Regions from separate parts of the Homo sapiens genome. Here region 1 is linked to region 2. Evidence: fine-mapped expression QTL. A gene starts in region 2. The other region holds a variant in brackets. All regions are shown on one strand. Distances are from middle to middle. Region 1 overlaps CRY1 (cryptochrome circadian regulator 1). Region 2 holds the start of MTERF2 (mitochondrial transcription termination factor 2).

The links.
Region 1: its variant is fine-mapped to the expression of MTERF2 in whole blood (TOPMed, PIP 0.98).

What each region holds. Positions count from the first base shown.
Region 1 is chr12:107,070,823-107,081,736 of GRCh38, reverse strand. All of the region lies in intron 1 of CRY1 (cryptochrome circadian regulator 1), which reads left to right. Among named protein-coding and RNA genes, the nearest start is that of CRY1, 17 kb to the left of the region's middle. The variant G/A (reference allele first, on the strand shown) is at 4,760.
Region 2 is chr12:106,982,824-106,993,737 of GRCh38, reverse strand. It overlaps MTERF2 (mitochondrial transcription termination factor 2), which reads left to right and starts at 6,592. Exons shown (of 3, transcript NM_001033050.3): 1 at 6,592-6,769; 2 at 8,513-8,623. It overlaps CRY1 (cryptochrome circadian regulator 1), which reads left to right. Exons shown (of 13, transcript NM_004075.5): 11 at 702-773; 12 at 848-951; 13 at 1,737-2,374. The coding sequence ends at 951.

The DNA.
Region 1 (10,914 bases), 88 kb before region 2:
GGAACATAGACATTCAGACCATAGCAGGGATGTATTCTGTATATAATCTCTCTCTCACTTAACAGATAGTACCTTCCTGAAGAGAAGTTGCCTCTTAAATCAAAAGTTTATTTTGTGTCCCTATCCATTATAGGCAGTATTATTGATGCTGGGTATACAGTATTGAATAAAACAGAAAAAGTTGCTGCCCTATTCCAGTGGGGGGAAAACGGACAGTAAGACAAAAATAATGTATCAGGTGGTGGTAAATTCAATGGAGAGAAATAAAGCAGAATGTGAGAACAGGGACCTAAAGGAAGAGGAAACAGGCTATACATGTATCTGGGGAAAGAGCCTTTTTGTGTTCTCCACAGCATAGTGGCTTATACATAGTAGGCATTAAATATTGTTTTAATTTTTCTTATAAATCTAAGGTTGAGGGATAGGACAGCTACTTTATATAATTTATATGTTAATGTCTATCTTAAACTCATAACTTAAAAAAAATTCTCAATGAACAGATTTGTTTTAGAATTTAAACTTCAACATGTTCATTACACATTTGAAGCTATGACTTGTAAGCTCTCTTAATTTTCAGTAACCAAATCTATAAATGTGCCTACATCCTTACTAGTTCTTCCTTCTAGTATACAACTTCAGTGGAAGAGATACTGCTGTCTCTTTTCAAAACGAGTTTCTTCTTCTGTGCTCCATTTCAAAGACTTTGCTCATTTTTTATATTTATTCTTACCTTTTCTTCTACTTTTTCTTCTTTTTAGGTTGCCTCCAATCAACATTTAAACATGCTTAAGATCAAATTCTGTAAAACATACACAACCTGTAACAACAAAGGAACAGAACTTAGCATTAACTGTGTTCCACTCCTGCAACTATGTATCTCAGTTTCTTTGTAGCCAATTTCTTGAGCAAGATGTCTAATAGTGGCTGACTTCATTTCTTTATATTCTACTTACCCTTGAACCCAATCCAAACTAAGGCATGTCCGGCTTCACTCCCACCCACTCTACCAAAACTATTTTTATCCAAAGGATACTTTAAATCTGCCCATTCCCTGACTTTTTTCTTTTTTTCTTTTTTATTTTTTTTTAACAATGTTTGACACATTTGACCACACCTTCCTCTTCTTCCCTTGGCTTTATTAAAGGACTCTTCTGTGCTTTCCTGCCAGCGCTATTAGTGTTCTTCCTTAGCTTCTCCTTTTCTGTTCAACCTTTAAATGCCCCTGAGGTCTGTGATCTCCACCCTCTTTTCATTTCACATATTTCTAGGCAATCTTATCTCCTCTCATAAAGTCCGTTACCATTTACTCGTCTATGCCCAGAATTCTCAAGTTAGTGTCTTCAGCGCAAATCTCTTTCCTGATCCCCGGACGTGTGTGTGTGTTTGTATGTATCATATATACCCATTTGCCTGCTTGAATATATGACATTACCTCAAACTCAGCTTGTCCAAAACAGAGTTCATCTTCATCCTTCTCTATTGCACAAAAACAAACAAACCCCAAACTGAGTTTTCCTGTGTTTTCTGTCTTCACAAATGATACTTCCATTTGCCCATTTGAGTCCTTACTGTGTGCCAATTACTTGCTAATTTCTGTGGATAGCATGATAGTCAACAGGTAATTTCTCTGCCCTCAGGGAGTTTATAGTACAGAGGAAGATTTATTCAGAAATAAAATAGTTACATAAATACATTCTTCCCTCTCCATTGTCTCTTTAGCCCATATCACCATTCTCTTTGCCTAGGTTGTTTGGGTAGCTTACAAATCATTGTCCCCCTTGCCCTTCTCTAATTCATTCGCTACACAGCAAGTAGAGTGATCTTTTTAAAATTGCAAATCTGGTCATGTCATTTATGCTTTAAAACCTTTTAATGACATTTCTTTACCCTTAGGTTAAAGTTCAAAAAGCCATAGCATGGTTTCAAATCCTTGTGTAATCTGGCCCTCTGCTTCTTTCTAGTCTCTGGTGATTATTTCACTGAGGCAGTTAAACTGAAACTTGAAGTGTAAAGTGGATCTTAATAAGCAAGGCATGGAGGGAAGGGAATTCCAAGCAGAGAGAAGCAAATTCCAGACTGAAAGAATAGCTTAAGGAAAGGCACAGTATTCTGATAGTGGTGAGGAGGCTGATGTAGCTGAGTCATGTGGTGCATGAAAAGATAGGAGATGTTGTTTAGTACTTTTTTGTTTGCTAGTTGGTTGCCTGAGTCAAACAGGCTTAAGCAAAAAGAAAGTTTATTGGTAGATGTAATTGAATAACCTAAGGGAAACTGGCTTTGGACATCGCTTGATACCAGGACTCAGAAGATGTTACCAGGATCACATTTCTCTTTGCATCTCTGAACTTCACTTATTCTGCCTTGACTTCTCAAATAGGCTGTCCTCTGGTGGCAAAATATAGCAATAACAATGGCATTTATCTCAGCAAAAAGCATACACCTTTGGCCCAGAAGTCTCAGCAAAAGTCTTATGGCACTTCATTGGCTCTTTTGGGCCAGTTTCTGAACTAGTCATCATGAGTTTATGATTGTCTTAGCTGAAGTGTGCTTCACTGGTGGAATCAGCTTGACTGAACTGAAGTAACTGAAGTAAAATGAGTAGGAAGTAGGTGGATATCCTAAAACAACATTGTTGCCTATTATATAAGAACTCAGATAAGTGGGTATAGTTCAGAAAAGCTGCCCTTGTTTGGGGAAATATAAATTTAGCAGCTGAGTGAATGTTAGAAGAGAGAGTCAAGATACTAGTTTGGAGACTTTATCAACAGTTCAAGTGAAAGATAATACAGGCTTAAACAAGGGGAAAGGCTATGAGGAAGGGGAAGATATAAGAGGAAGCCTGTAGAGGTACAGTGAAAAGCTTAGGTGACTGCCTGGAAAACACAGTTTCACAGAGGAGGAGGGTGAGGGAGAAAGTAGAGTGTAAGATCCTCATACTTTGTGCCTCTGTGACAATTAGACATTAAGTTAGGAAACACAGAAATAGACCATAGGTAGGTGAGGAAAAGAGTGAGTTTAGGTTGTTGACCAATTTGAAGCACTGCTAAGATATCAACATGAGAAATGGAGAAAATAGAAATTTCACTCTGGGAATTATAGACATTGGATCTGTGCATATGGGAATAATTCCTGTATAAGTAATGGATGAAGCATGCCTGGATGAGATTGGATACAGCCATAAAAAGTTATGTTAGTCAAAAGCCCAGTGAAAAAACTCAGCGAATACTATGTTTAAGATGAATAGGAGCTGGTGAAGGAGGCGAAAGAGAACCAGAGAGGTAAAAAGAGGATCCAGGAGAGTGCCATATTATGGAAACTGAATGTGGCAAGAGTGATTTTACCTTGCACTACAGGAGGCAGGTTAGGATGAGTTTTGACAATTATGTAGGAAAAATTATCAAAGACTTAGAGGTGGGAAAAGGAAATTATTGCATATCTAGAATGCTAGATGTTGTTTAGAGGACCCTCCAGGAGTTATATGATTCTGATTAAGGGATATGCATCTTTGTATTTGATTGACAAGGCTGTTTCACAACTCTGTAAAAAGGGATAAAAGTTAAGTTGTAGAAAACTGAAAGCAGTACAAATGTTTTCTGCCCATACCAATGCAAATTATGTTTGTGCCATGAAAATGAATTTTGTAAGTTGAGAAATAGTAAATCAGATTCTTATTTGAATCAGTTTTAACATCTTATTTCTTTCTTCCTTAATCAATGAATTACGTAAATTTTTTGCCAGATCTTCATTTCATGTTTGTATGAGAGTCATAATTTTACTGTTTTGAAAATTATACTTTATCTGTTACAAAGGCTTTTGGTGAACTTTGAGATAACACTTCAATGTAGGTGTAAGGATAGAAATCAGATTGTATAGGATGTTAACAAAGGTGTGTGTAGCAGGTGAGGGGAGGGGAGTGGGGGAAATGATTCAGGTTGGAATGTGAGGGGGATTTTTTATGAGAGAGGTAAGAAATTAGCTCAAGGCATAGGTTCTGAACAGGCTGAGGAAAAGTGAATTTTGGTTAGATAACTAGACTTTTAGTCAAGACTGAGCATAGTGTATTCACAGGATGATAAATAAATAAAATATATAGATAACTTTTAGTCAAGACTGAGCATAGTGTATTCACAGGATGATAAATAAGAAATAAAATATATAGATAAGGTGAGGCCTGAATATGTAATTCTTTGAATGACAGACTGAAGTAAGTTTAGAACATCTGACTGTACTAAGACCTACTTTATAATTCTTACTTTCCTATTAAATGGCCGTGGGACTGACCTTGGGTAAATCTCTCTCCCTTCATTTAGTCATTCAGGAAAACATTCAGTGAGAGCCTGTTATCTACCAGGTACTGTGCAAGTCATTGGAGATACAAAGATGAAGGTTATGGTTCTTGCCTGTAAGGAAACTTTCACACCACTAAAGGACAATTAGAACATACAATGTTAAAAAGGACCTCTGTGGAAATCTGCAAATACAATTGTGAAAGCACAAAGGAAAGACAACTTTAAAGGGGTGGGAAAAGGGGTAAAGGTGATGAGTGTGAGTTCTAGAGGTGTGTGTGTGTGTGTTTGTGTGTATGTGTTGGGGAGTGCTGGGTGTGAGATATGAGACTGAGAGAGGAGGAATTCTAGAATGCTTCTGTAGTAGGCCGTTCTTGCATTGCTATAAGGAAATACCTGAGACTGAGTTATATATAAAGAAAAGAGGTCTAATTGGCTCATGGTTCTGCAGGCTGCTCAGGAAGCATAGCAGC[G/A]TCTGCTTTTGGGGAGCCTCAGGAAGGTTACAATCATGGTGGAAGGCAAAGGGGGAGCAGGCATGTTGCATAGCAAAGGCAGAAGCAAGAGAGTCGGGGGGAGGTGCTACACACTTTTAAATGACCAGATTTCATGAGAACTCGCCATTGTAAAGATGTACCAAAAGGGATGATGCTAAATAATTCGAGAAACCTGCCCTTTTGATCCAGTCACCTCCCAGTAGGCCCCACCTCCAACACTGGGGATTACATTTCAATATGACATTTGGGCAGGGACACATATCCAAATTAGATCAGCTTCTTGAAGATACATGAGTCAGTGTACTTACATGAAAAGAGAGGTTTTTTTTTTTTTTTTTCTTTGAGGCAGGGTCTCATTTTGTCACGCAGGCTGGAGTGTAGTGGCATGATTTCAGCTCACTGCAACCTCTGCCTCCTGGGTTCAAGGTGATTCTCTTGCCTCAGCCTCCCGAGTAGCTAGTGGAATTACAGGTGTGTGCCACCATGCCTGGCTAATTTTTGTATTTTTAGTAGAGATGGAGTTTCACCATGTTGGCCAGGCTAGTCTTGAACTCCTGACTTCAAGCAATCTGCCTGCCTCAGCCTCCCAAAGTGCTGGGATTACAGGCATGCACCACTGCGTCCAGCCTGAAAAGGGAGTTTCTAAGAAATCGTCTCTTATGTGACACCATTGGAACCTGCAGTTACTTGAAAAAGGAAATCATTTAAAAAAAAAATAGAAAAGTGTGCATTAATTTGATAGTTTTTGATGTAAGGCTTGATTCCAGGTCTGAGTTCTTTTGCTCACTTCTTTATCCACATTTATTCTTTAGGTGATCTCATCTAGTTGCATACTTGAATACCTGATAATTTCCTATCGTGTATTACCTGCACTGGCCTCTATCTTGAATTCCAGATTTGCCTATCTAGTATTTTTACTTGGATTCAAAATAAGCATCTTAAGCTGATTTTGTCTCCATCTCCTCTACCTCCCATGGCTTCTCTATATCACAGTAAATGTCAACATTCACCTAGTTCTGCAAAAACCCAGGAGCTACCCTTTCTTCTTTTTGTACTCAAACTTCATATCTAGTCCTAAAACAATTGTTAGAGCTTTTCCCTTCAAATTAAATCTCATATCCATTCAAATAACACCCTCCCACTGCTATCATAATATCCAGGCCACCAGCATTTTTTACAAGATTACTGTAAAAGCCTCCTAAGTTTTCCACTTCCATTTTTGTGCCTACCTTTCCCATCTGTTCCATGTGGAATTCAGAGTAATATTTTTAAAACCATAGTTAGGTCTGGTGGCTCAATACGTGGCACAGGGTGGGTGTCAGTATGTCCTTGTGTATTGAATGTATAAATGAGTATTGTTCTGCTGATTTTGCTGATGGAATTTCAAGTTGACTTTCCTGTGTAAATTACACCCGCAGACTGATATTGCCTATTATTCGTTAAAGTTGATTAAAACCTTCAAGACCATGGTGAAGCAAACTTGAATACAGAATTCCTTTAGTACATTTTTTTCTTCCCATCTAGTTTAGCTGTCTTATCTACAGATAGTTAATTAGACAAACTTTTTTGGTGATTCACCTTTTATCAAGGCTTTTTGAAGCATTCAGTTTCATTTTCTATAAAACTTTACTTTTTATATTCTCAGTTTATATAAAATTTAAATTACGTGATGAAAATAAGTTCAGCTGGCATGAACGTGTTTGAGAAACACAACTGACTCTTCATATGTCTAGAACTTTAACTGATTGGAATAGGAATTGGACTTATTAGAAAGCAGTAGCCTATTTTATTTTTGTCAAACTGAAATTAGCCATGTCCATCAGTCAGCATGGCCTCTGTATGCTTTGCACAGGGTATAGAAGGCATTTGGTTATTTGTGTGAATTGATAAATTGGAGATCACTAGTAGTTTTTGTTTTTTGTTTTTTGTTGTTTTTTTTTTGAGACAGAGTTTCACTCTTGTTGCCCAGGCTAGAGTGCAGTGGCACGATCTTGGCTCACTGCAACCTCCACCTCCTCGGTTCAAGCGATTCTCCTGCCTCAGCCTTCCAAGTAGCTGGGATTATAGGCATGCGCCATCACACCCGGCTAATTTTTGTATTTTTACTAGAGACGGGGTTTCATCATGTTGGCCAGGCTTTTCTTGAACTCCTGAACTCAGGTAATCCACCCGCCTCAGCCTCCCAAGGTGCTGGGATTACAGGCGTGAGCCATCGAGCCCAGCTTAGTAGTTTTAATGTATGTTAACTACATAATTGCCAAGGTCCCTTCTAGTTCTAGAATTGTATGATTTCTGTGATGGTAATACCAAAATAATTTTTAGTATTATAAAAGATATAACGATAGGTTTTTGAAATTTGACATAAAATTCATTCTCAAATATTTTTATTTGGTTTGGGTTGCATATTTTAAATAATTGGATATTAGGGTTTCCTAGAGATTAAAAAATGCTATTTAAAAAAAAGAGAATTCTATTGACTCTGGTTACTTTTGCCATTTTTATCTTATCCTATCTGTCTTCTCAATAGCAACAGCAACAACAAATTAAATATCTTAATGACACGTATTTTTATTTAGTTTTCTTGTTTTAAGTGATGTAGGCCAGCAGGAGTTAAAAGGCTGTAATAGAATGACTTAATATTAAATTACTGTGCTACAGTGTATATGTCTTAGAGAATGTGCTGCCAAGCCTTTTATTGGTATTATGTATGGTATGGGGTCAGATTCTAATTTTGAGGTTAAAATACCCTTTTTAATTGTCTGGCTTAGTGTTAATATTTTTTGCAATTAGGGGCATAATTTGGGGTAATGTGGGAATAGAAAGGAAAGATTGAATGAAAGGAAGATAATTAAAAAGAAGAATAACCATCAGAGTAGAGTGACATGTAGGTTTTTGGAAAAGGAGGAGTCACTGATTATATTTTGAGATCCCATGAAGAGAGACATAACAAAGTTAAAAGGAACTAGTTTAGAAATTAGGATAAGCTTAATTTTAGGTGTATCAAAGTTTGTTTTAGGTGTATTGAGGTTAGGGTAACAGTGGGATATCCCGATACAGTTGGTTAGCAGGGACTGAAGCTAGGAAGAGAAGTTGGGACTAGGTGTGTATTTTTAATTGGAAACAGTCTTTTGAGAGGTGATAATTAAAATTAGGGTAATGGGTGAGAATACTGAAAGAGGAGCATATAGCAAGACAAAAGGAATGGCAGTCTTTTCTATTTTTTTGAAACGGACTCTGTCTCAATTGGTCGCCCAGGCTGGAGTGCAATGGTGCAATCTTGGCTCACTGCAACCTCTGTCTCCCGGGTTCATGCAATTCTTCTGCCTCAGCCTCCCTGGTAGCTGGGATTACAGGCATGCACCACCATGCCCAGCTAATTTTTTTGTGTTTTTAGTAGATACAGGATTTTACCATGTTGGCCAGGCTTGTCTTGAACTCCTGACCTCAAGTGATCTGCCCTCTGCAGCCTCCCAAAGTGCTGGGATTACAGGCATGAGTCACCGTGCCCAGCCAGTAATGGCAGTCTTTATGATTATGATTTTTAAAAAGTATATTTTAGGCCAGGCACAGTGGCTCATGCCTGTGATCCCAGCTGCTCAGGAGGCTGAGGCAAGAGGATCAGTTGAACCAGGGAGACAGAATGCAGTGAGCCGAGATCACGCCGCTGCACTCCAGCCTGGGTGACAAAGTGACACTTCGTCTCAAAAAAAAAAGAGAGAGAGAGAGAAATAAAAAAATATATTTTACATGTTAAACTTTTTTGTATTCAAACTTTTATGGTTTATATCATTAGCGATAAGCCTCAATGCCCCTTTCCCACCCAAAGATGATATAAATATTTACAATGTTTTTGTAATACATTTAGAGTTTTATTTACACATATAAATCTTTGTTCCATCTAGAATTTACATTGACACTGAGGTTACACTCTAACTTCTTTTTCCCCAAATGATGATCATTTTCCACAAAATGATGGCCAGTTATTCCAACACTACTTATTGGATCATTTCCAATTCAGTGAGGTAAGTAAATATAAGTGTTAATGTAAATTTTTAATATTTTACGATCATTTCTAGGCTATTTAATTTTTAAAATGTGGATTTTTTCTGATGAAAAATACAATCATAGTAAAGAATTCAAATGATACGAAGAAAGTGTCTGTGTAATATCACCCATAAGAAGATAAGAAATACAACACTGGTAGTAGTTTTAAAATATGAAAATATAAATGTGCATATATGCACATATGTGTTAATATGAATGTGTGTTTACATGGAAACTTTGACATCTCTATTCACAAGTGTGATTAATTCATATTTTTCTTTTGGGAGCTAATTTTGTTAATTTTAACAATGAGATCATGTTAGCCTTATAGTAACTTCCTATCCTTTTTATGCCCCCAACAGTATAAATAACATAGGACTTCTGTGTTCCATAAACCTTTGCTAGAATTCACCTATAAAGCAATTTGGGTCAGGGGTTTTTGAGAGGAGTCAGATTATTTTTATAGCAATTTCGAGATTCCTGTCCAGTCCACACATCAAACTGCCCACATCAAACCCCTAGTTAATACATGAATTTAGCCTCTAATTTAGTAGCTGGTGACTCTGTAATCTACTTTCATTCTTTCTCCTCTGGAAGGTTTATTGAGTCAATAATTGATACCTGAGCTAAGCTTTGCCCATTTGGAATTTGGAAAAGGGATGCAGAGACTGTAGTCAGTTGGTATTGGGCCTTGGCACTGAGTAGTCATAAAAAATAGATATCTTTGCATAGAAAGGTGGTTGTAGAAAGACAAAAGAATGAACACATATGCAGAAAGGAACAAACAAGAGAGAATTCAATTCCAAAAAGGAGTTGGGTTCTAACATTCCAGAATCCTTAGACTTGACTATACTACTTGAGCACAAGTTTCCATGAAATACTCCTATATTCTTCCAATGCTTTTTTTTGTTTGTATGACCTAGTTTGAGTAGATTTCTGTTCATTGCAGTGAAACAATTCCTGACTTAGATCATCTTTGACATACTTTTTATTTCATTTGTGTTTATTGGTTATTCTAGGTTTCTTGTCAGTCAGTTTGATAATTGAATTTGCTATTAATGCATATTTTCCTAAAATACCTGCCGTTAAATCTAGTCTTCCATTCTCACATGTATTGCTAAAGTTGTATACCATATCTTTTATTTAATAAGTACCACAATTGCTATGATAGTCCCTTTCTTACATTACTAATAGATATTTATTTTTTTCTTCTTTTTCTTTCTTCGACTTGCTAGATGTTTTTATACTTTATTGATCTTTTCAAAGCATAACTCCTATGGAAGGAATAAAGAATATTGTCAAAGAGTTACCTCCACAAAAAACATCAGGCTTAGATAGTTTCATAGTTGGGTTCTACCAAAGTTTAAGAAACATGTGACTTCAGTGATATATAAATTGTTCTAAAACATGATAAAAGAAGAGGAAACAATGTGTAGAATTATCAAATAGGATACAGAAGCATATTTTAAATGTATATCCTACATTCATGTTGAAAATGCAGGAATAATTCAGTATTGGAAATATATTAATATGTCATTATATTAGTAGATCAGAGTATAATTATATGATCACTTCCATAGATGCTGAAAATACTTTTGATAAAGTTCAATATTTATTCCTAATAAAATTTAGTACTAAACCAGAAATAGAAGGCTACCAAATCAGCTCAAAAGTCAGCATCATGCTTAATGGGTAAAATTTAGAAGTTCTACAAAGTCTGGAGCAAGATACAAATGCTGGCTGTCATCACTATTACTTATTGTGCCAGAGGTACTAACTAATGCAGTATAAAAGGTATAAAAATGGAAGAGGAAGTAAAATTTATTGCTGTTTTTAGGACAATATTATTATATCCCAAAATATCTAGGAGAATCAACTGAAAAGGTACTATTAATAATAAGAGAATCCAGGCCGGGCGCTGTGGCTCACGCCTGTAATCCCAGCACTTTGGGAGGCCGAGGCAGGGGGATCACCAGGTCAGGAGATCGAGATCATCCTGGTTAGCACGGTGAAACCCTGTCTCTACTAAAAAAAAAAAAAAAAAATTAGCCAGGCATGGTGGCAGGTGCCTGTAGTCCCAGCTACTCAGG
Region 2 (10,914 bases):
CACTGATTGCCTGGGATTGAAGTTAATTAAAACGAAAGTAAGTGCACAGTCTTGTTCAGGCCATAAGGTGTTGACCTATCCACCTGCTCGTGGATAGGTCCAGAATGCTCATATTTTTCCATAAACTGGACACACTGACAGAAATGTTTCCCTAAAACATACTTCTCTGTTCTAGCCAACCTATTCTCCTATAATAGTGTTTGTTTTTAGAAGGGTTGATAGGATTGCTTAGGCTAGGTAACTGCCACATAGTCTGTGTCTTCTGCTTGTCGTATGATTTGAATTGTTTAACTCATCGGGCAGGCCCTTATTCCCTTATCCTCAAGGAAATATGTTTGGAGGAGCTCTGAAGGAAAAGCGTGGGAAAAGGGACAAGAGTGAGGGAGGAATGTCTATCTCACTCTTGCCCCTATGTTTTACCTTCATGGTCAAGTTTCAAATTGTCATCTAGTAAGGAAATGTTTTTTAGAAAATGATCATCAATGATTTTTCCTTTGAGCTGTCAACACTTCTGTGAGCCTAAATTTAAGTTTTCCTGGTTTGAGCATGTGATTTTTGGTTCATAGGAAGATTGAGATTTAGTCTTAAAAGCATATAAATGACCTTAAGTACAAGCGCTAAAAGTTGGATTTGTAGACTTAATAATACATACATCTTGGATTTGATTTTAAGTAATTTTACTGTGTTTTAAATACTAACAGGTTGCTCTCAAGGGAGTGGTATTTTACACTATGCTCATGGCGACAGTCAGCAAACTCACCTGTTGAAGCAAGGTAAGAATGAAGCATTGGAGCATACTGTTCTTTTTCCTTTTCCTATCTTAAACATACATTTTTTAAATGTGCAGGAAGAAGCTCCATGGGCACTGGTCTCAGTGGTGGGAAACGTCCTAGTCAGGAAGAGGACACACAGAGTATTGGTCCTAAAGTCCAGAGACAGAGCACTAATTAGGTAAATATTTTAGAGCTGTATTTCTTGCTTTAGAAGAGTATATAATTAACATAAATTAAGATAATTTCAAAAATGGAGCAAATCTCTATTTTCAAACCAGAAAATCTTGAGGCATTAATTTTTAAGCAATTTTTACAAACTCAGTTAATTTTTGGTCAAGAGACATGCATCTGTACTGGAGAAATTGTTGCACCAGTTTTATATTCATCTGAACCAATGCTCTTTAAATTAGAGATGTTTATGATTTTGTGGTCAAGTTTTTTCTTAGAAAAAGACAACTTTTTTATTTCCTTACTATGTAACTATGAGTCTAAAACAATTAAAGTGGCCTGTTTATTTTAGTGACATTAATATAATCTTTTTATGAACTTTCCCCTAAATCTTTGCCTCTTAAATGTTGATAAATTTCTTTTATCTGTTATGATGCTTCTAAAATCTAAATTATTTCCAATTTGGGAATAGTTCAAAATTTTTTAAAATGCTGGCCCTTATTAGAAGTATCAGAAAGCCTTGCCTGCATTCAATTTAATTGGATTTGGGATGTCATTTTGTGATTTAAATTAATATGAAAAATATTTATACGTTGGATTTGCCAGTTTTTAAAAATTTTCTGTTTCTTCAGTTTCTAACACTGTTTACATTTTTTATTGCTTAGTTTTTTTATGTCAACCTAATTAGACTATAAGTATCTTGAAGATAAGGTCAATAAACACTCATCACATTTTTGTCATTGAATTATTTGCAATCAAGCTTTACCTAGTTTTTTTTTCCCCCTTAAATCACAGAAAACATTCAGGAGGAATACTGTTGCAGCTGAAATTGGTGGGGAGTTCAATACTTTTCAATTAAGTTATTTAAAAATATTCTTCATTGATGGAAAGCAGTTACATATTGAAATATGTTGTTTCTAATGACATTTCTGTGGTTTTTAACTTTTTAATGAATTTCACAGAGGACAATTGGTAATTTGTATATAAAGAACTTGGCAAGAGAATTTGCTTAATGTAAATATAAACAGTCACAATTAGTATAGACCCATCGATATATTTTTGATAATTTTTCATGTATGGTAAAGTTAAAATGACAAATTGATATTCTGATATAAAACTCAAAGTTTTGAAGTCAGTGGGAAAAAAGGAGGTTTTTAGACTTTCTTAAAAGACGTTAAAATTTTAGGACAGAATTTTCTTGATGTTGTTTGATCTAACTTTGCACTCTTTGATAATAATGTTTTAGATAATGTGCGTAATCCAAATTGGTATTGTAGCCTCTGTTAACACAGACAGTATATGTTTTAAACTTTGATGTAAACCTTTTTAGACCCAAACTTGTGGAAGTATCATGTGTTAAGTTCTCTGTCTCTGTTTCTTTGTTCATTTATTACTAAAATGAACTTGTTATTAAAGTATATGCAAATATGAAATCTTGTGTACGTGTTTTTTTTTCTTTTTTGGTAAGGGAGAGAGTATTGCTGTATGATATATGATTACAAATTACAAAGAGATTCTATAAACCACATCATCATTTTGAAGGAACAGCTACCATATGTTTAGTTAAACAGTGTTTTTCAAAATTATATGCAAGAAAGAGGTAAAACTAAAGGGACTTTTTTCAAGTAATGGCATTTGTAACCATAAATCAGGCAGTATGGGCTAGCAATCAATAGAGTGAGCTCTCGAGTCAAATGCCCATTTCTGCCATTCATTAGCTTTGAGGTCTTGAGCAAGTTTAACCTTCTATGTCTTCTTTCTTCTTATCTATAAAATAGGGATGAGGGTAGTATCTGCTTTATAGTTCAGTTCCATGTAAAATACTTATGAGCTGGCATGTGATAGGGTACTCAGTGTTAGCCACAGGGCTGCCATGCTGTGTCACCCCCTGTCGTGTACAGTGCACAGTCTGCATAGCTGTATGCCACAGCTCTGGTTAGCTGCCATTATTTTTATTAGTATTGTTATTATCCCTTTAGTGTTCTCTAGTAGGTTAGTTCTTGCCATTCTGAATTATAACCAGTGGCTTTTCATTTTCCCATCATTAATCATGATAGATATTTAGTATGATAATTTAAAGATAACTGAAGATAAAAGTTGAGTAAAAATACAGAAACGATAACATTTTAGATGATATGCATTTTTAAAAATATCCTGGATAGTGAATTAACAATGATCAATAAATTCCATTACTGAGGCTAGGTGTGGTGGCTCACGCCTATAATCCCAGCACTTTTGGAGGCTGAGGTGGGAGGATCACTGAAGCCCAGGAGGTCAAGGCTGCAGTGAGCTATGATTGTGCCACTGTACTCCAGCCTGGGTGGACAGATCAAGACCTCATCTGAGCTGGGTGTGGTGGCTCATTGCCTGTAATCCCAGCACTTTGTGGGGTTGAGGCGGGAGGATCACTTAAAGCCAGGAGTTTGAGACCAGCCCTGGAGACTTAGCAAGACCCCATCTCTATTTTTAAAAAATCAATATAAAAATAAAAAAAAAGTAAAGAAGACCAGGCAGGGTGGCTCATGCCTATAATTCTAGCACTTTGGGAAACTGAAGTGAAGCAGGAGAATCACTTGAGGCATGAACCCAGGAGGCGGAGTTTGCAGTGAGCCGAGATCACATCACTGCACTCCAGCCTGGGCGACAGAGTGAGACTCTGTCTCAAAAAAAAAAAAATGATTAGCCTGAACAACATCTTGGGACCCCATCTCTACAAAAGGAAACAACAAAAATATTAGCCAGGTGTGGTGGTGTGCACTATGGTCCCAGCTACTTGGGAGGCTGAGGTGGGAGGATGGCTTGATCTAGGGGATTTGAGGCTGCAGTGAGCTATGATTGCACCACTGCACTCCAACCTGGATGACAGGGTGAGACCTTGTCTCGGGGATGGGGCGGCAGGTGGGAAATCCATTACCGAGAAAAAGAATAAGAAAAAATCCTGTGCTTTATCGTTCTTTTTTCACCACTGTTAAAGTGAAGTAATATTTTAATTGTTTTTTATGGTAAGTGTACCTCACATCCTACTCTTTGGACCTGGTTGTACAGTGCAGAGTTGAGAAATTCATAGACCTGAGATTTACCATCACCGTACAAGAGGTCATAGATTTCAGTTTTCTTGTTGTTATTTTGAGACAGAGTCTCACTCTGTCGCCCAGGCTGGAGTGCAGTGGCACGATCTCGGCTCACTGCGGCATCTGCCTCCTGGGTTCAAGCGATTCTCCTGCCTCAGCCTCCCGAGTAGTTGGGACTACAGGCGCGTGCCATCACGCCCGGCTAATTTTTTGTATTTTTTAGTAGAGACAGGGTTTCACCGTTAGCCAGAATGGTCGCGATCTCCTGACCTCATGATCCGCTGGCCTCGGCCTCCCAAAGTGCTGGGATTACAGGCATGAGCCACCGCGCACGGCCAAAGATTCAGTTTTAATGTGAATAAATAAACAGTAAAAGAACACTATCTCAGCATAAGCACTGGTATGCTATTTATAAATGTAAGAGGATTTTTTTTTTATTAGGGAGTTTTTTGGAAAGCTTTTTCAGTTTGGTGTAAATAGTGGTCAAAATGAATCACTGAAAGGGAAAGAAAAGGCATCAGTCATCATGCTCTACTTGAGCAGATACATGATGTTCGAATCAGTGTTCTCCCCTTAACTAGAAATCCTACTTGTGGTTAAGGGATTTAAGACATTTTACTCATTCAGCAAATACTTCTTCAATTCTTATTGCCAAAAACTGTACTGACAACTTGGGAAAATTATATTGAGAGAACCAGGGTTTTGAATGAACTGTACAAAGTCCTTATGTTTTTCATATTTGCTTAAAATAAATAAGTAAATTTGAGATATAAAAGTCTATCAGTATTTTTAATGCATCTCTTACATACTAGAAATTTCAGGATCTTCTCACAATTCAAATGTGTTTGTAATTTTCTTGTACATAATATGCATAATTGTAAGTTCTTTTCCCCTTTTCTTCATTCAAGGTTTTTTTTCTGATTATATGGTCCTAGAAATGCACTGTTTAAATATTTGGGCTGGAAAAAACTTTGAGTAGCATTTATTTAATACAGTTGGCATAGCTGATTTGTCAGTTTCAAGTTTTGATTACAATGCACGGGGTCATATGTATTGTAATTCCTTGCACAATTACGTGGAGCCCTAATACAAGCTTCCAGCACCCTGGTGCACATTTCTGCTCCCTCCCTCCTGACCAGTGATGGCAGCTTGCAGTTCTAAGTCCTGAGTTTACATTCCTTAACTTCCTTTTCTGTATCCTAATTTCCTTTTCCTAAGTGCAAATGACACACTTTGGTTAGTCTGGACCCCAAATCATTTTATTTCAGGAAAAAGTGTGCAATAAATCTATGCATAATAGAGTTTTTATATTCGGATAACTCAGGAGTTGCTGGACAAACACCCCCCAGCTGTACACATGAGTTGCTCAGATCATTCTAGAATATCCTAGAGATCAGAGGTGGGTGATCTTGAGGAGCCAGGATTCTTGCTGCTACTCAGTGGAGTTAAATGCACGTGTGAGCTCCTCTCAATATAGCCTGTTGAGCCTAAACTGCATAGTGAGACTAGACTCAAAGATTTAGTTAACATTTCCTGAGTTCCTACTGTGTGCCCAGCATTGTTGACAGAAAAAATAATCAGTAGCCTCAAGGAATTCACTCCACAGGGTGCGAGGGCAGTCTGTATGCCAGTGCCACCGACGGCAGAACTGTGCACAGTGTGCTACGAACACCTGACAGCAGACACCTCCAGCTGGGAAAACCAGTTTTCCTGACTCCAACTCCACACAAACAGAATCACCAGGCCCAGCTCAGGGCACCCTGTCCTCGATAACACTTAACTAGGTGTGATTAGTCACGTTATTAGTTGTTGATATCTCTGCCCTCCACTAGAATGTAAGCTCCATAAGGACAGGGAATGTGTTTTATTCCCCCTCTATTTTCTCATTGCTGTTTCAATATGCTTGGCACTTAGCAGGCCTGCCATAAATACTTGTTTTTTGGATGGATAAATGTGAAAATAAATGAGAGAGACATTCAGCCTGGCTTTAAGGAGAAATTAACGTGTTTAGTGTATGAGGTTGGGCATCACCGGTAATAATTAGAATGGAAACCACTTGGCAGTTTATCAGAAAAGGGGAGTATTTAGGTGAAGGTGGCAAGGAGGGAGAGAAAGGAGAATGGCTTTTAAAGACAGTCGCTAACTGCTGGGGTAGGGTGGGGGCGGGGAAGAGTTCAGATGTGTTTCAAAGAACTTTGGGGGTTTTTTAAACATTTCTTTTGTAAGTTGGTTCTTTACCTAACTGAATTATTTTGGGAACAGTGATTGGCTCTATCTTAAAGATATAGCGGTTTCTGTTACTTCTTTTTTTTCTTATATTTTCTAAGCGTCAAAGCTACTGGAACTCCGCTTCCTAAAATGCTGGGAAGGAAAGGGTGTGAAAATGCCAGATGCCCCCGCCAGCACAGGCTGGGCTGCCTGGAAAGCCGATTCCCACTCCGACTCGCCCTCGTGGTGCGGGGAGGGACGCGTAGTTGTGTCCCGCGCTCTGACTGGCTGCGTTGGGACGCGGGGGCGTGTCTTGGGGGGGCGGGGGTTGGCGGTCATCTCCCGAGCCCTGATTGGCCATGGGCGAAGGGACTGATGGCCTGGTTGGCGCTGCTGAGAACTGTCGGGAGCTTCTTGAGACCGAGGACCGAAATCCCGGCTCCAGGCCTCGGGGACTGCGGACTGTGGGGAGGCTGGCCGGAGAGAGAGGGAAGGACGGGGCCTGGCCCCCGGGACTCCCTGTGCCTTGCTTGGAGCTGACGCCGACGGGTGAGTCGCCCCCTTCCTCTGCTCCTGGGCGTGTTCCTCACCAGCGGCGCCGCAGCGGTCAGGGCCCGCAAAACCCCACGCCTCGCCAGACGCTCAGCTCAGCCTGCCGGGTTTCTCTGGAAAAGCGGAGGCCCCACAGTGAATGTGCGGCCTTTTGATCGGTCCTGGAGATCTTCCGTGGACCCTCGTTTTTCCTTGCTTATAAACGTTGGTCAATTTGAAACTGGCAGCAGGGCATATGTGTTACGAAAGAAGAACTTTATTGAAACCAGTGGTGGTGTAGAGAAGACCATACTAACCATAACTGTGTATTACAGAAGTGAATTTCACTCCCCAAAAATGCTTAAGAAACAAGCATCCTAGAACAGCCCACATTGTGATTTAACAAACATTTACCAAAAGCATTGCTATATGTGGGGGCACAGGGCTAAGAGCAGGCAGGACTCTGGAGCCAACCTGTGGGGTTTGAGTCCAAATTCTGCCGGTTTTTTGTTTTTTGTTTTTTTTTTTAGCTGAGTAACCTTGGGCAAGTTCCTTTACCTGCGTCTGTTTCCTCATTTTAAAATGAGTTGTTGTGATGATTTAATGATTTAGTATATGTGAAGAGTTTTCTGCATATTCTAAGTGATTTATGGTATTAACTCGTTTGATCTTTGCAGTCACCCAGGAGATAGTATCACCATTTTCCTGATGCCAAACTGAGGCTCAGAGAGGTGAAGTAACTTCTTCAAGTCACAACACAACTGTTGTCCAGGAATCAGGCAGTCTGGCTCTGCTAACCCAGTTTTACCCACTGCATTAATGTACCGCATCCACTTGTTCACTCAGTTTCACCTGACAAATACTAATTTTGTCTCTCTGTGGAACAAGTTCTTTGCTGGGTGCAGGGAATAAAGCAGAACACCGTTCAGTTCCTGCCTTCCCAACGCTTGTAAATCTAGTGCAGGTCATTCATGGCCGGGCTGCAGGGTGTCCATGAATCCTGCTAAAATCATTTGCGAAATGTTGTGAGCGTGGGTCTTTTCTTCTGGAAAGAGAGTCTGTGACTCTCAGGTTCTGAGTTGATCTGTGATCCAAACAGAGGTGTGAAGAAGTGTTGTTTTAGCAGATCTGTGCCTAGTATGCCTGATACACAGCTTGAACTTCAAACAAACAGCAACAAAATTCCTACTGGTTGGAAGAATGAAGAACTTGTAAGAGCATAATAAGTGCTGCAGTAGCGTCCGGAGCAGGGTGCTGTGGAAGAGCACACAGAAGGCCACCTGCCCAGGAATGCCTCCTAGAGGCAGTGAAGGCAGCTGGGTGAAGGATAGGGAAGCAGTTCATTGGAACACTGTGGTGACCAGTCTGTCCATGTAGTGTTGAGACAGAAACAACACGTGAACAGCTGCAGCTGTTGTACCACTTGTGCGCAAGTGTAAAAGTCCATGGTGCCATGAAATCATGTAATGGGGACAGGAGGCTTCATGTATTCGTGAAGGTTAGAAAAGTTTCCTTGAGAAAGTGACACTTAGGCCTAAAAGTTGGAGCATTTTGGGCATGGAATCTGGCCCACAGTCTTCAAAGACCACATGGTAGAAACCAGTAGAGCACCAGGGACTGACAGGAAGCAAATGCAGCTGGTGCAGGAGAGGGAAATGGGAATTAGGGTGGTGGCAGAGCCCAAAGAGGCCTTGTAGGCCATGGTAAGGCATTTCTATGTTTTATTTTACTTTGTCTTTATCCTAAAATGCCATTGGCAAGTTTATTGCAGGGAACTGACAAGATCACATTTTGAGAAGAAGTTGGAAAGAATCCCAAGTGGATGAACTGAATATCTGGATGAGGACAAGATCTGTGGGGAGAGACTGTAAGGTAAGAAGAAGAGAGGTCTAGAACCAAGCCTTGAAGGTGAGCTTGTATGGGAGACAGATAGAGGGTGGCGAGAAGTATAGAAAGGGAGAAGAATCAAAAAAAGTCGAGTGTCCAGGAAGTCAAATGAGAGAATATTTCAAGGAGAAAGTGGTCAACTCTGCTAAAAGCTGCAGAAGTCAAAAGAGATAAGGAAGGCTGGGTGTGGTGGCTCATGGCTTGTATTAGTCCTTTTTCATGCTGCTGATAAAGACATAGCCAAGACTGGGCAATTTACAAAAGCAAGAGGTTTAATGGACTTACAGTGCCACGTGGTTGGGGAGACCTCACAATCATGGCGGAAGGTGAAAGGCACATCTCACATCGTGGCAGACAAGAAAAGAGTGAGAGCCAAGCGAAAGGGGTTTCCCCTTATAAAACCATCAGATCTCATGAGACTTATTCACTGTCATGAGAACAGTATGGGGGAAACCACCCCTATGATTTAATTATCTCCCACTGGGTTCCTCCCACAACACAAGGGAATTATGGGAGCTACAATTCAAGATGAGATTTGGGTGGGGACACAGCCAAACCACATCACGCCTGTAATCGACACTTTGGGATGCCAAGGTGGGCAGATCGCTTGAGCTCAGGAGTTCAAGAGCAGCCTGGAAATGTGGTGAAACCCCTTCTCTACAAAAAAAAGAGATAAGAATGAAAACTACTCATTGGCTGTAACCACATGAAAGTTATCTTTATCGCAAGCTATATAAGTAGAAGAGGAAATGGAGAGAAAGAAGGATCTGCAAGAATTAGCTGAGGTGAAGAGAAAGATAGGGTTTGGGCAGGGAAAAGAAGAGCAGTGGAGAGAGAGAGGGTTTGGGCAAGGACAGGAAGAGCAGTGGAGTGATGGCTGGAGCATCAGAGGAGGATACACCTGAAGGAGCAAACACTTGAGAAAGGGCTTGAGAGTTCTCAGGCCAGAGAGGCTGAGCTCAGCACAGGAGCAGGAATGACCCTGGATAATGAAAGCTGTGACTGGATAATGAAAGCTGTGAAGGGGAGCTAGTGATAGGTTTATGTCTGCTGAGAGGAGCTGCTCTCCTTTCTTTGTACAGATAGGAGGCAAGGGCACTGGTTGTGAGTGAAGGTGGGTATGGAGGTAGGTGGGAGGCCAGAGGTCTGAGTTGAGAAGATTTGAGATAGTTGGTGGGAAGTGTGGAAGAGTGAGTCAACCAGAGCTGGTTTGAGGATGGTCTGGCAGGGGGAGCCAAGTATGCAGCAAAGACCAGAAATGAGCCTCTTGGCCCCTTTGGGGAATTGCAAAGTAGGGGGATGAGGATGGAGGCAAATTAGAGACAAAAGCTACATTTAACATATGATAAAGGAGGCATCATAAGTCATGGGGAAGGAAAGGATTGTTCAGAAAATGGTACTTGGAGAGAAGTAAACTATTGATAAAATCTATTTAGATTCTCAGCTCACACCCAGAAATTTCAAATGAACTTAAGGAGCTAAGTTTTAAAGTTCAAACAAAAATATGGGAGGAAATAATGGATGAATTTTTACTGATCATCTGGTACTTAAAAGCAGTAAGGATCATCAAGGAAAACTTCCCTGACCTTCCTTTGACCACGTGAAATTAACTGCTTTGTTCTAACAGATACTGTAATATGAACTTTGATAACATTATGCTAAATGAAATAAGCCAGACACGAAAGACAAATATTATATGACCCCACATATAAAAAGTACCTAGAATAGGCAAATTCATAGAGACAGAAAGTAAAATAGAGGTAACTGGTGTCTGGAGGGAAGAGGGTATGGAGAGTTATTGTTTAATGGGCACAGAGACAGAGTTGGTGTTTGGGATAGTGGTCATGGTGGTACAACATTGTGACTATACTTTAAGCCACTGAATGGTACACTTGAAAATGGTTTAAATGGTAAATTTTTTGTTATTTATATCTTACTACAATTAAAAAAGGGGCTACTTTGGTATGCTAAAATATACCATCAACAACTGAAAATGAGCTGAAGAAAATATTTTCAAAAATGAGATTATATTTCTTAATTCATAGAGTTTATACAAGTCAATTTTTAAAAAGCAGAACGATTGCAGTTTTACAAGTCAGGAATGGTTGATTCACAAAAGGAAATAAAGATGAACGAAATAGTTTAATTATGAAAACATCACCCTTATAAATAATAAAAAGAAGTTAAATTAGTGTTGTATCATTTTTTACATATCAAAATAAAAACTGATGAGAGAATCACTCATACTGCCTGTGAGAATGTCAACTGAGATAGTT